Homo sapiens: one gene and its partner. The protein of the gene in region 1 interacts with the protein of each later gene in a pairwise test. Each region holds a gene or a part of one and is shown in the gene's direction. Other genes may lie near its edges.

Region 1 (2,878 bases):
TTCATCCAGTTTTCTCTATTTGTCAAATGAGAAAATTGTGTATGTTTGTTTGTAACTACACAGATGTCAAACAATCCATTTAGTTCATGTTCACTGTCTTTTCAGCTCTATGGATGACTTGTGAAGAAATGATTCTTTTGCCTATCTAATTTTAGATTTATACTGTAAACACATTTTGAGATCCTGTAGCTAGCGTTCATAACAGTGTTTCTACTAAATTATTCCCTAAATAGGGGATCATATAAGTGTTTGAAATACTTGTTTTCAAGCTTGGGAATACATGAAAACGTTTCAGATCTTATTAAACACTTTAAATAGAATGGCTATTTTGACCACTGGAGGGAAAAACACTCAGGCAGCCCCTGTAAAGGATATCACATTGTTAGACTTGAAAGTATGTTTGACAGATGGAAGGAATTTAGAAGAGAGTATTTCCCAACAGCAAAGTGACGTTATATTTAAATAGAAGCACAGGTGCTTTTGTCATCAATCATCAGAATTCATTTGAGCATTTTATAATAATTGAAAAATGACTTCTTGTGTTTGTGTTTATAGGCATTCAGCTCAGTGAGTACTTACCGGAGGTGAAAGACCTGCTACAAGCGGATCAGCTTGGAAGCTTAAAGTCCAATCCTTACTTCGAGTTTGTTTTGAAAGCAAATTATGAATATTATGTTCAGGGACAAATATAACTTTTTCTAAAAATGGCCATTGTTTATGAAATCTGTATAAGTGTGTCCTTATACAAATTTTAGGCCATAAACAAGTGTAAGTTTGTACAATTTCATAACATGTATAGCTGAGTTTTTATACTTTATATGTAGGAAGCTAATATAAAATAGTTATGTAACTGTGATTTTGGTTTTCAGTTATGTGACTTGTTTTTTCCACCTGAAATGTGTCAGTTGTTGTTCCTGTACTCGGTGCCCTTTCTTTTTACTCTCACGTGGTCCCAGGTTCTGGAGTTCTTGTCCTGGTTCTAGCTGCTCACATGTACAAATCACTTCTAGGCCTCAGTTTCTGCGACTATGAAAATTACTAGATTGCACTAGCTTGTCTCTAAAATTGCTGTGACTCCAGATACTTTGCACTGAAGAGAATCTAGGGTGTTTGATATCTGTTTCAGTTAGGGCTAATGGGAAATGTCTAGTAAGATAAATGTCAACTTTTGCTGACTTATTATGAGATGAAAAACCAAAGGAGAGTGGGCCTAACTCATGTGAGCTTGATAACTGATGAACTCATTGGGAGCATTTTAAACTTTTCTACATAAATAATAAATGAGCACTAATGAAAGTATTTTAGTGAATGAAACGTTTATGTGGTTTTCTAACCTATCTAGAAATTACTGTTGATGTTTAGTTCTAATCTTTCAGTGTGGGGATTCAGCCAGCCTCATGTATTTTCAGAATGACTCATGAATCTTTACCACAGTCTGCCTAGCTAGTCAAAAGCATGAATGATACTAGAAACCATTATAGGTTTTCCTAATATGGCAATTGATGTGACTGAAAGGTACTGTACTCTCAGAGCTTTGTCCTGACCAGTGTCATCACTCACTCAATGTTTATCTGGGTTTTAAATAAAGGCCAGAGGTTGGACAGGGAGTTGCTGGCATGTCCGCGGCTTGGCCCAGTAGAATGCCCACTAACCATCTTGCTCCAGCAGCTGAAAAGGTCAGAAGTTAAACATGGTGAAGAGTCCGGTTCCTGGATTCACAGAGCCCAGCATCAGGCCGTCTCCCCCGCAGGCTGCAAGGCCAGCCCTTGAGTATGTTTGGAAGAGCAGGTTAATGGAGCTGTTTGTAAATCAAAGGGAAGAAATTAGCAGCCTGTTCTTTTTCTCTTTGCAGCTTGTATGTTAGGACAGCATTAGGGTCTGGGTTAGGAACATGTTGGAAGGTACTAAGAGAAGTTAGGAAGAGCAGCTTGTCAGATGGCCAGTAAGAAACCGCTGAGTACTTGTATCGTAAGATGAGGCTTTGCTTTTACGTGGAGGTCAGCTGTCAGTGTTCACGTCTCACCTGTAGGACCCTGTCGGGTGATAATGTGCTGCGAGACACACAGGCTCCCATCTCCCTCCCGTGCTGCTGCAAACCTGGTGATCCCTGGTGTATGGGACAGTACCGCAGGAAAGCCCATCTGATCATGCCCCAGAACCCACTGATCGCGTGGACGTAGAACGACTGCTCTTACCGTGTGAAGTAGAGTCATCCTGTTCAAGGGAAGAAAAAGCTCCCTCTTTTAATCCTGTTTCTCTCTAAGTTAGTAGCTATTACACCCAAATGGTTGAGTTTTTAAAAATTATTTTAACAGTAAAAATGAAATTAAGACCTAGGATTTTGAATAATTTTTTCTCTAGAATTTTAAAAATTGGTTTCACAACGTAGTCTTCATCAACGAGTTATTAATGGTTTTTATATAAATCAAGTAGCTGATAAGTATACAGATGCTGTGTTGACATTTCTGTGGAAAGAGATACTTTACTGACTTGGAAAAGGTTCGTGATCACACCTGTCTATAAGTGCTGCCCTGAGAGTCCCAGCTTGGGACCTTGACAGAATACAAGAGTAAAGTGTCGTGTGCGATCCTGAGCAGAGGGGAGTGTACGCAGGCATGGAGACTGGCGCGTCTGGAGGATTTGTGGACAGAATGGTGTCAAGGATTGCAGCAGACCTGGAGATAGACAGTAAAAACTTGCTGAACTCCTGAGTGAGGTAAAGGCTACTGACGCCTCTCTTTGAGGGCTTTCATTTTTAATGATTGAACTGTGTTTCTTTTTTTACTTTAGGGGCTGAATCGTAGTTTTCCTACCATCACCCACCTACATCCTACACACCTGGACATTTTGAGGCTAACTACAAAAGCAGTGTAGCCTG
Region 2 (7,650 bases), on another chromosome or scaffold:
TTTCTGGACTGCACCAACTGACCCTGGTCAGGGCAGTGACGCGACCCGAGCGCGGGCACCGCGGTTGCAGTGCGGACTCCTGCGCGGCCCCAGTCGGGCGGTGGTGCGGCTCCCGGCGGGCAGACTGGGCCTGGCACGTAACCCGCCCCCTGCCCTGGGTCTGCAATCAGTCGTGCCCGCCACGGAGTTAGCCGAAGAACAAAAACCACTCTGTGGCAGCATCCCCGAGCCACAATAGGGCTTTGTGCGGCCCCCGCCCCCCAAGGTTACCCCGCTGGGCTGAGGGGGCTCACAGGCCGCTCCCCCCGGCCTGGGCCCGACTCCCAGCTGCGCCCCGCGTCGGACTGTCCACCGCACGGGTCGCAAGAGGGGCTGCTACGGGTGGGAGGGGGCCGGCGATCCTGGGGGGGCTCGGGTTACGAGCCCCCTCCCCACCCTGACGCCACTCCCGCCCCCGCCCAGGTGCGAAATCTCCTGCCCTCCGGCTGGGCGCGCGACTTCAAAGGCGCTTTGAAGAAATCCGAGTTCCGAAGACTTCTTTAGTGGGCTGGGGGCTGTGACGGAAGAGACCCGGGAGAGGGGGCTGGGGCAGAGGAAAGGCGGGGGGCGCCTTGGAGCTGGTCTGAGCGAGGCGGCGGCCTGGAGTGGAACCCCGGGATCCCGCCTCAACCCCGCCGGGCGGGCTCCTCCGGACCCCCCAGAGTCTGGCCCTCTCGCCTCCCGGTCTCCGCCTGTCCGGTGCCAGCTCCCGCCCGCCGCAGCCTCGCGGTCCTCCCCTCCCCAACCCTTCGGCCCCTTTCATCTTCCCTAGACTCCGCTTGGGGTTTTGCTGGTTTCTGGGAGATAAAAACCGCTTCAAATAGCGGCGGCGCGCTGCCAGGACAAACAGGGCCGGGCGGGCCATGTGCGCCTGGTTACCGGCCCCGGGTCGGGACGCCGGGCTCCAGCGGGCCCGGGAAGGGGTAGCGGGCGGAGCTCCGGGCACCCAGGCTCCGGTGACGACTCCCAAAGTAGGGGGCCCCTTTTAGAAGCGGCCTGCGCGCTCTCTCGGTTCCCGCCCAGGTCGTAGGGAGGGGCCGGCGGAGACCGCCCGCTAAGCGCTCGGAGCCCATAGGGCGTGGGTCACGGTCGCTGCGTTGCCTGGCCAGCCGCGCCCCCTGGTGAAGTTACTGGGTGAGCGCGCCGGGCCTGGACTTGGGCCTTTCTAGAACCCGCAAATGGTGAAAAGCGTTCCACAAACGTTAAATAAGCAGTATGGAGGAGGGGACAGTACTTGTGCCAGGCCAGGGCGGGGGCAGCGGGCGGAACAGCACTGTTCCTTCTCTCCAGTTCACCTTACAGGGTAAGAAGCAGGCACCTAACCGATCATTATAACCTGATGGTGAAAATCGAGGTTTCATCGAAGGATGCAAGTTGCAGGCCGGAGTGATTTTTCCTAGGGGTATCTGGGTTTGGATGGTGTTACGACTAAGGTACAAACGGAAACTATCGTGGGTCCTCAGTGCTCTCCACTAATCTGTCAGTCACCGACTTCCTCTCCCTCAAACCTGCCCACTTCCCCTTCTCAGGGAGGCTTTCCCAGCCAGGTTCCCCAAACCATCCCCAGTGTATACCTTATGTTCTTCAAGCTTTCTGTGACTTCCCAGGTGACGGTGAACTCACATAGGAAATTAAATGGGGCTATGGGAAAAGGTTAGAGCAGGGGTCGCGCCACGGCCCGTCGTGTCGGTGGCCTGTAAAGGAACCGCACAGCCGGAGACGAGCTGAGCAAGCTGAGCTCCGCCTCCTGTCAGATCAGCGGCATTAGATTCTCATAGTAGCGCGAACTCTGTTGTGAACTGCGCACGTGAAGGACCTAGGTTGCCCGCTTTTTATGAGAATCCAACTAATGCCTGATGATCTCAGGTGTAACAGTTTCATCCCCAAACCATTCCCTCCCCCGCTCCCCCTGGAAAAACTGTCTTCCACTAAACCTGGTGCCAAAAAGTTGGGGACCGCTAGGTTAGAGCCTTGCTACTTAAAATGTGGTCTGTGCAGTATCAGCTGGGGATTCTTTGGAACTATAGCCTCTGAGCGCCACCTTAGGAGATGCTCAGGTGATTCCTATGTCCCTTAACAGTTGAGAAGTACTAGATTAGAGGAGATCCACTTGCCTTCTCAGGTGAAGTGCATTTTCAGGAGACTCTGGAGCCCTTTGTTTTCTGACCTGGTAATAACTCTCTTGGGGGGAATTTTTCAGGTGAAAAAGAAGGGCAGACACGGAATCCAGAATACTAGAACTAAATGCCCCCTAGATTATTCAATGAGACTGGTAGCTCTTGGGAGTGGGGACAGCCTTCTACATCTTCAAATCACTTAACATTTGTTAATGAACTCTGACCAAGGTCACCTAGTTGATGGCACAGTTATAGCTATTAACCTCTGACATTTGTTTAGCACTTTAAAATTTATTAAATAGCTTCATTTTATTATTTTGTATGGAAAACAACCATATGAAATAATTAGGACACTGCAAATGAGAAAAGTGAGACTCAAAGAATTCAATGTTTTTTCCAAAGTCTGTAAGAGGGGCCCCCATTCTCTTTCTTTCTTTCCTTTCTTTCTCCCTCTCCCTTCCCTCCCATTTTTTTTTGTTTTGTTTTGTTTTTTGTTTTTTTTTTTTTTTGAGACGGAGTTTCGCTCTTGTTGCCCAGGTTGGATGGAGTGCAGTGGCGCGATCTCTGCTCACTGCAACCTCCGCCTTCCAGGTTCAAGGGATTCTCCTGCCTCAGCCTCCCGAGTAGCTGGGATTACAGGCATGCACCACAATGCCTGGCTGGTTTTGTATTTTTTAGTAGAGATGGGGTTTCTCCATGTTGGTCAGGCTGGTCTCGAAATCCCGACCTCAGGGGATCAGCCCACCTCAGCTTCCCAAAGTGCTGGGATTACAGGCGTGAGCCACCGCGCCCGGCTCTTTCTCTCTGGCTTGCTTGACAGGGTCTCGCTCTTTGACCCAGGCTGGAGTGCAGTGGTGCTATCTTGGATCATTGTAGTCTGGATTCTCCTATCTCAGCCTTCTGAGTAGCTGGACTAAAGACGCTTGCCACCACCACGCTGGCTAACTTTTGAATTTTTTGTAGATACAGGGTCTTGCTATTTTGCCCAAGCTGGTCTTGAACTCCTGGGCTCAAGAGATCAGCCTCGGCCTCCCAAAGTGCTGGGATTACAGGTGTGAGCTACCACACCCAGCCTTACTTTTATTCTTAAGTGAGAATAACTGGTTTGGGTGTATCTAGGTCCAATCTCTCTGTGACTCACTTTCCTCATGGTGACAGAACAGCACCCACCTTATGGGGTTGTAAAGATTATAAAAGCACTTATCGTAACAAGTGCTCAGGAAATAGTTTTGCAGCCCGGCAAGGTGGCTCAGGCCTGTAATCCCAGCAATTTGGGAGGCCAAAGCAGGCAGATCACTTGAGGTCAGGAGTTTGAGACCAGCCTGGCCAACATGGTAAAACCTCGTCTCTACTAAAAATACAAACTTAGCTGGGCGTGGTGAAGCATGCCTGTAATCCCAGCTACTCCAGAGGTTGAGGCAGGATAATCGCTTGAACCGGGGAGGCAGAGGTTGCAGTGAGCTGAGATAGCACCACTGCCTTCATCCTGGGCAATAGAGCGAGACCCTGTCTCTCAAAAAAATAAAATAAAATAAAGTTTTCCTTTTTGAGACGAAGTTTCCCTCTTGTTACCCAGGCTGGAGTGCAATGGTGCGATCTTGGCTCACTGCAACCTCCCCCTCCGGAGTTCAAGAGATTCTCCTGCCTCAGCCTCCCGATTAGCTGGGATTACAGGTGCCCGCCACCACGCCCGACTAATTTTTGTATTTTTAGTATAGATGGGGTTTTCAGCATGTTGGCCAGGCTAGTCTGCGAACTCCTTTCAGATGATCCACCCACCTCGACCTCCCAAAGTGCTGGGATTACAGGCGTGAGCCACCGCGCCTGGCAGGAAATGTTAGTTTTCCAACCGTCCCCACCTCCCTTTCCAGGACGCCTAACCGTGTGGGTGCAGCACTGTTCCTCCTCTCTGAGGCTTTTCCCTCAGCTTTCCAGCCAGCTGCCTGTGACATAGCCTGTATTTTCCTCTGGGTGATCCACAGGCCTGGGAGGATTAATTTGGTACTTCCCTGAATGTGGCTTATTTCGGGCTTTCTAAGCGCTAAGATAGTGAGTGGGAGAAGGTGTTCGGGAATTCGGAGCTGGGAAAAACAGTAGTCTCATGGAAAACAACAGAAAAAAACCCCACTCCAGCCTGGTAACCAACGGTTGGCCGGGGGACGTGTCCGCGCTGCTCCCCCTCCGGCCGCCAGGGGGCGCAGGAAGAAGCTTTGGAGGTCTGTCCCGGGACCGCGTACTCGTCCTTCTTTCCCGTTAGTCTTTTCTTCACTTCCGTTGAGTTCCGCCTCGCCGTTTGTCCCTTGCGGTACCCGTCCGCATACGAATCTAGCCCGGGAACCGAGTTGCGGGAGTGCGGTCTGTGCCGTTCCGGCCAGGAGTTTGCCGACTGCAGACGTCCTGCGAACCGGCAAGATGTGCTCTCTGGGGTTGTTCCCTCCTCCACCGCCTCGGGGTCAAGTCACCCTATATGAGCACAATAACGAGCTGGTGACGGGCAGTAGCTATGAGAGCCCGCCCCCCGACTTCCGGGGCCAGGTGGCCAGGGCGAGGAGGGAGGGGACCTACAGGCATGGGGGCGGAGTCGGGGACTACTGGGGAAAGGAGGCAGTGTGACAGGGGCAGGGTCACAGAGTCTGGCGGAGTGGAAACAGCTTGGCCCCGGCAGGAGGCTAGAAGGGCTGGAATCTGTTTTAGGACTGGGATTGGAGTATAACGGGGGAACGGTTAAGGAGCTGTGGAGGAGGCCTAGAGGGAATGGAGAGAATGAGGGAGAATCTAGGGAGTGTGAGGATGCGGGAGAACTATCTAAAAGTTGGGGACAGTATCTGGGGAGGATCAGAAGGATACAACATGGAACTTTTTTCCATGGTGTTCCTGGGAAGGACAAGGAAGGGAAACTGACATTTATTGAGCGTTTGCTATGTAAGAAAGAGGCTGAGTCAGGTGTTTTCTAAAAATGTCATATGGTTTCATAATCACAGCAACCCTATGAAATATTATTCTAGTTGCACAGATACGGGAGCTAAGACTTGTTTCCCATTCTCACAAGTGTTAGCTTTGTGGAAATGGGAAACAGACCTCTGGAATCTCTTATACTTAGCCCAGCGGTGGGTTGGAGATGGCACGGAATTAAAGATTTGGGAAGAGACTGAATCACCGTCACACTCCTCACTTTTGTGCTATAGTGGATCAATCTTCCTGTCCTACAACTGACAAAGGATCCCCTAAAGACCCCTGGAAGGCTGGACCATGGCACAAGAACTGCCTTCATCCATCACCGGGAGCAAGTGTGGAAGAGATGCATCAACATTTGGTGAGGCATGGCAAAGGGTTTCCTGGGTCACAGTCTGCAGATCCTGGAAAATGAGTCAACACCCCTTTACCTTGGGGTGTTCTTCAAAAGACTTTTATTCAGGCTGTCTCCACGAGAGCTGTATATCCTAAATCATATGAAATTTTTAGTCCTTATTATAGAACTCAAATGCTCAATAAATGTCAGGTTCCCTTCCTTGCCCTTCCCAGGAACACTATGGAAAAAGTACTTCCATTTCATCTCTAGTAACTTGCCTTGCTTTCTGGCTTGATTAGGTGAACCTGCTCCCTGCCCCCACCTCATGGCATTACCACTTCTGAGCTTTTACCTGAAGCTCAGCAAGATCAGATATAAGGTTGCACTGAATAATCTCCTACATAGGTCATCCACTTTGCACTTGTAGGAGTGGAGCTACACTACCTGGTTTCATTTTCTTTTTTTTTTTTGAGATGGAGTTTCACTCTTGTTGCCCAGGCTGGAGTGCAGTGGCGTGCTCAGCTCACTGCAACTTCCACCTCCCAGGTTCAAGCGATTCTTCTGCCTCAGTCTCCCGAGTAGCTAGGATTACAGGCATGTGCCACCACGCCCAGCTAATTTTGTATTTTTAGTAGAGACAGGGTTTCTCCATGTTGGTCAGGCTGGTCTTGAACTTCCGACCTCAGATGATGTGCCCGCCTTGGCCTCCCAAAGTGCTGGGATTACAGGCGTGAGCCACCGCGCCCGGCTCATTTTCTTTTTCTTTTTTTTTTTTTTTTTTTTTTTGAGACGGAGTCTTGCTGTGTTGCCAGGCTGGAGTGCAGAGGTGCGATCTCGGCTCACTGCAGCCTCCGCCTCTCTGGTTCAAGCAGTTCCCCTGCCTCAGCCTCCCGAGTAGCTGGTACTATAGGCATGTGCCACCACGCCCAGCTAACTTTTTGTATTTTAGTAGAGATGAGATTTCACCATGTTGGCCAGGGTGGTCTGGCCTCCTGACCTCAGGCCTGCCTTGGCCTCCCAAAGTGCTGAGATTACAGCTACTGCACCTGGACCTATTAATGGCACATATTAATTCCTTTAAGGGTTATTTATGCCAGGCACAGTGACTCACGCCTATAATCCCAGCGCTTTGGTAGGCTGAGGCCAGCAGATTGCTTGAGCTTAGTAGTTTGAGACTAGCCTGGGGAACATGGCGAAACCATGTTCTTTTCTCTACAAGAAAAGTACAAAAATTAGCTGGGTATGGTGGCATGCACCTTTATTCCCAGCTACTTGGGAGGCTTATGTATAGGAGGATCACTTGAGCCTGGGAGGTGGAGGTTGTAGTGAGCCAAGATTGTGCCAGTGCAGTGGCACTGAGTGAGACCTTGTCTCAAAAAAAAAAAAAGGGTTACTTAATATTTTTATTAATACCATTACCATTTGTAGGATAAATTCCTAGAAATTAAGTTGCTGGCTCAGAGGGTATGTTCATCTGTAATTTTGTGAGCTGTTCCAAATAGCCCTCTGTCAAAATGGTACATGTATATGGTCCCACCAGCAGTGTATGGGAGTGCCTGTTTTCCAACACATGTGCTGTCAAGCTTTGATCTTTGGTACTTCAGTACAGTTTAATGGGCATGCCTGTGTGTGTGAAGTTGAATATCAGTTTGTTGAAAAGCCATTCATTCCCAGGCTCCTTGTCTCCTACTTCTGTGGCTGCTGCTTCTCAGGGTTTTTGGTGGCTCCTCTTCCTGATGTCCCTTAAATGTTGGTGTTCTTGGGGCTAGATTTCCAGTTGATGCATCAGACCTGGTGTTCACGTGTTTGCCAAATTATCCTGCTTGAATATTTCGCAGACTTCATATATTCAGCATGCTCAAATCCAGTCTCTTTATTTCTCTCTCCAAATCTGCTTCTCTGGATGGTTCACTTTAAGGAATGATCATATTACTCATTCAGGAAAAAGTGGTTTGAGTATAGGTTCTGGGGTAGATAGATGGTTGAATCCTGACTGCTACTTTCTACTTAGATTACCTTGTTCATATTAATTAGCCTCTTCACACCTTTGTTCTCTCATCTAAAAATGCAGTGATAGTCTGGGCGCGGAAGCTCATGCCTGTAATCCCAGCACTTTGGGAGGCCAAGGCGGGTGTATCACTTGAGGTCAGGAGTTCGAGACCAGCCTGGCCAATGTGGTGAAACTCCGTGTGTAATCCTAATTAC

Evidence for each region.
Region 2: the proteins of NUP133 (region 1) and AAAS interact in a two-hybrid assay, tested with the Homo sapiens proteins (one study listed by IntAct).

The regions. Positions count from the first base shown.
Region 1 is NC_000001.11:229,439,718-229,442,595, reverse strand, and holds the end of NUP133 (nuclear pore complex protein Nup133), read left to right. Parts: intron 1-555; coding exon 556-692; 3' UTR 693-2,337; downstream 2,338-2,878. UniProt on the Homo sapiens protein: Involved in poly(A)+ RNA transport. Involved in nephrogenesis.
Region 2 is NC_000012.12:53,318,384-53,326,033, reverse strand, and holds the start of AAAS (aladin), read left to right. Parts: upstream 1-4,423; 5' UTR 4,424-4,568; coding exon 4,569-4,691; intron 4,692-5,341; coding exon 5,342-5,469; intron 5,470-7,650. UniProt on the Homo sapiens protein: Plays a role in the normal development of the peripheral and central nervous system.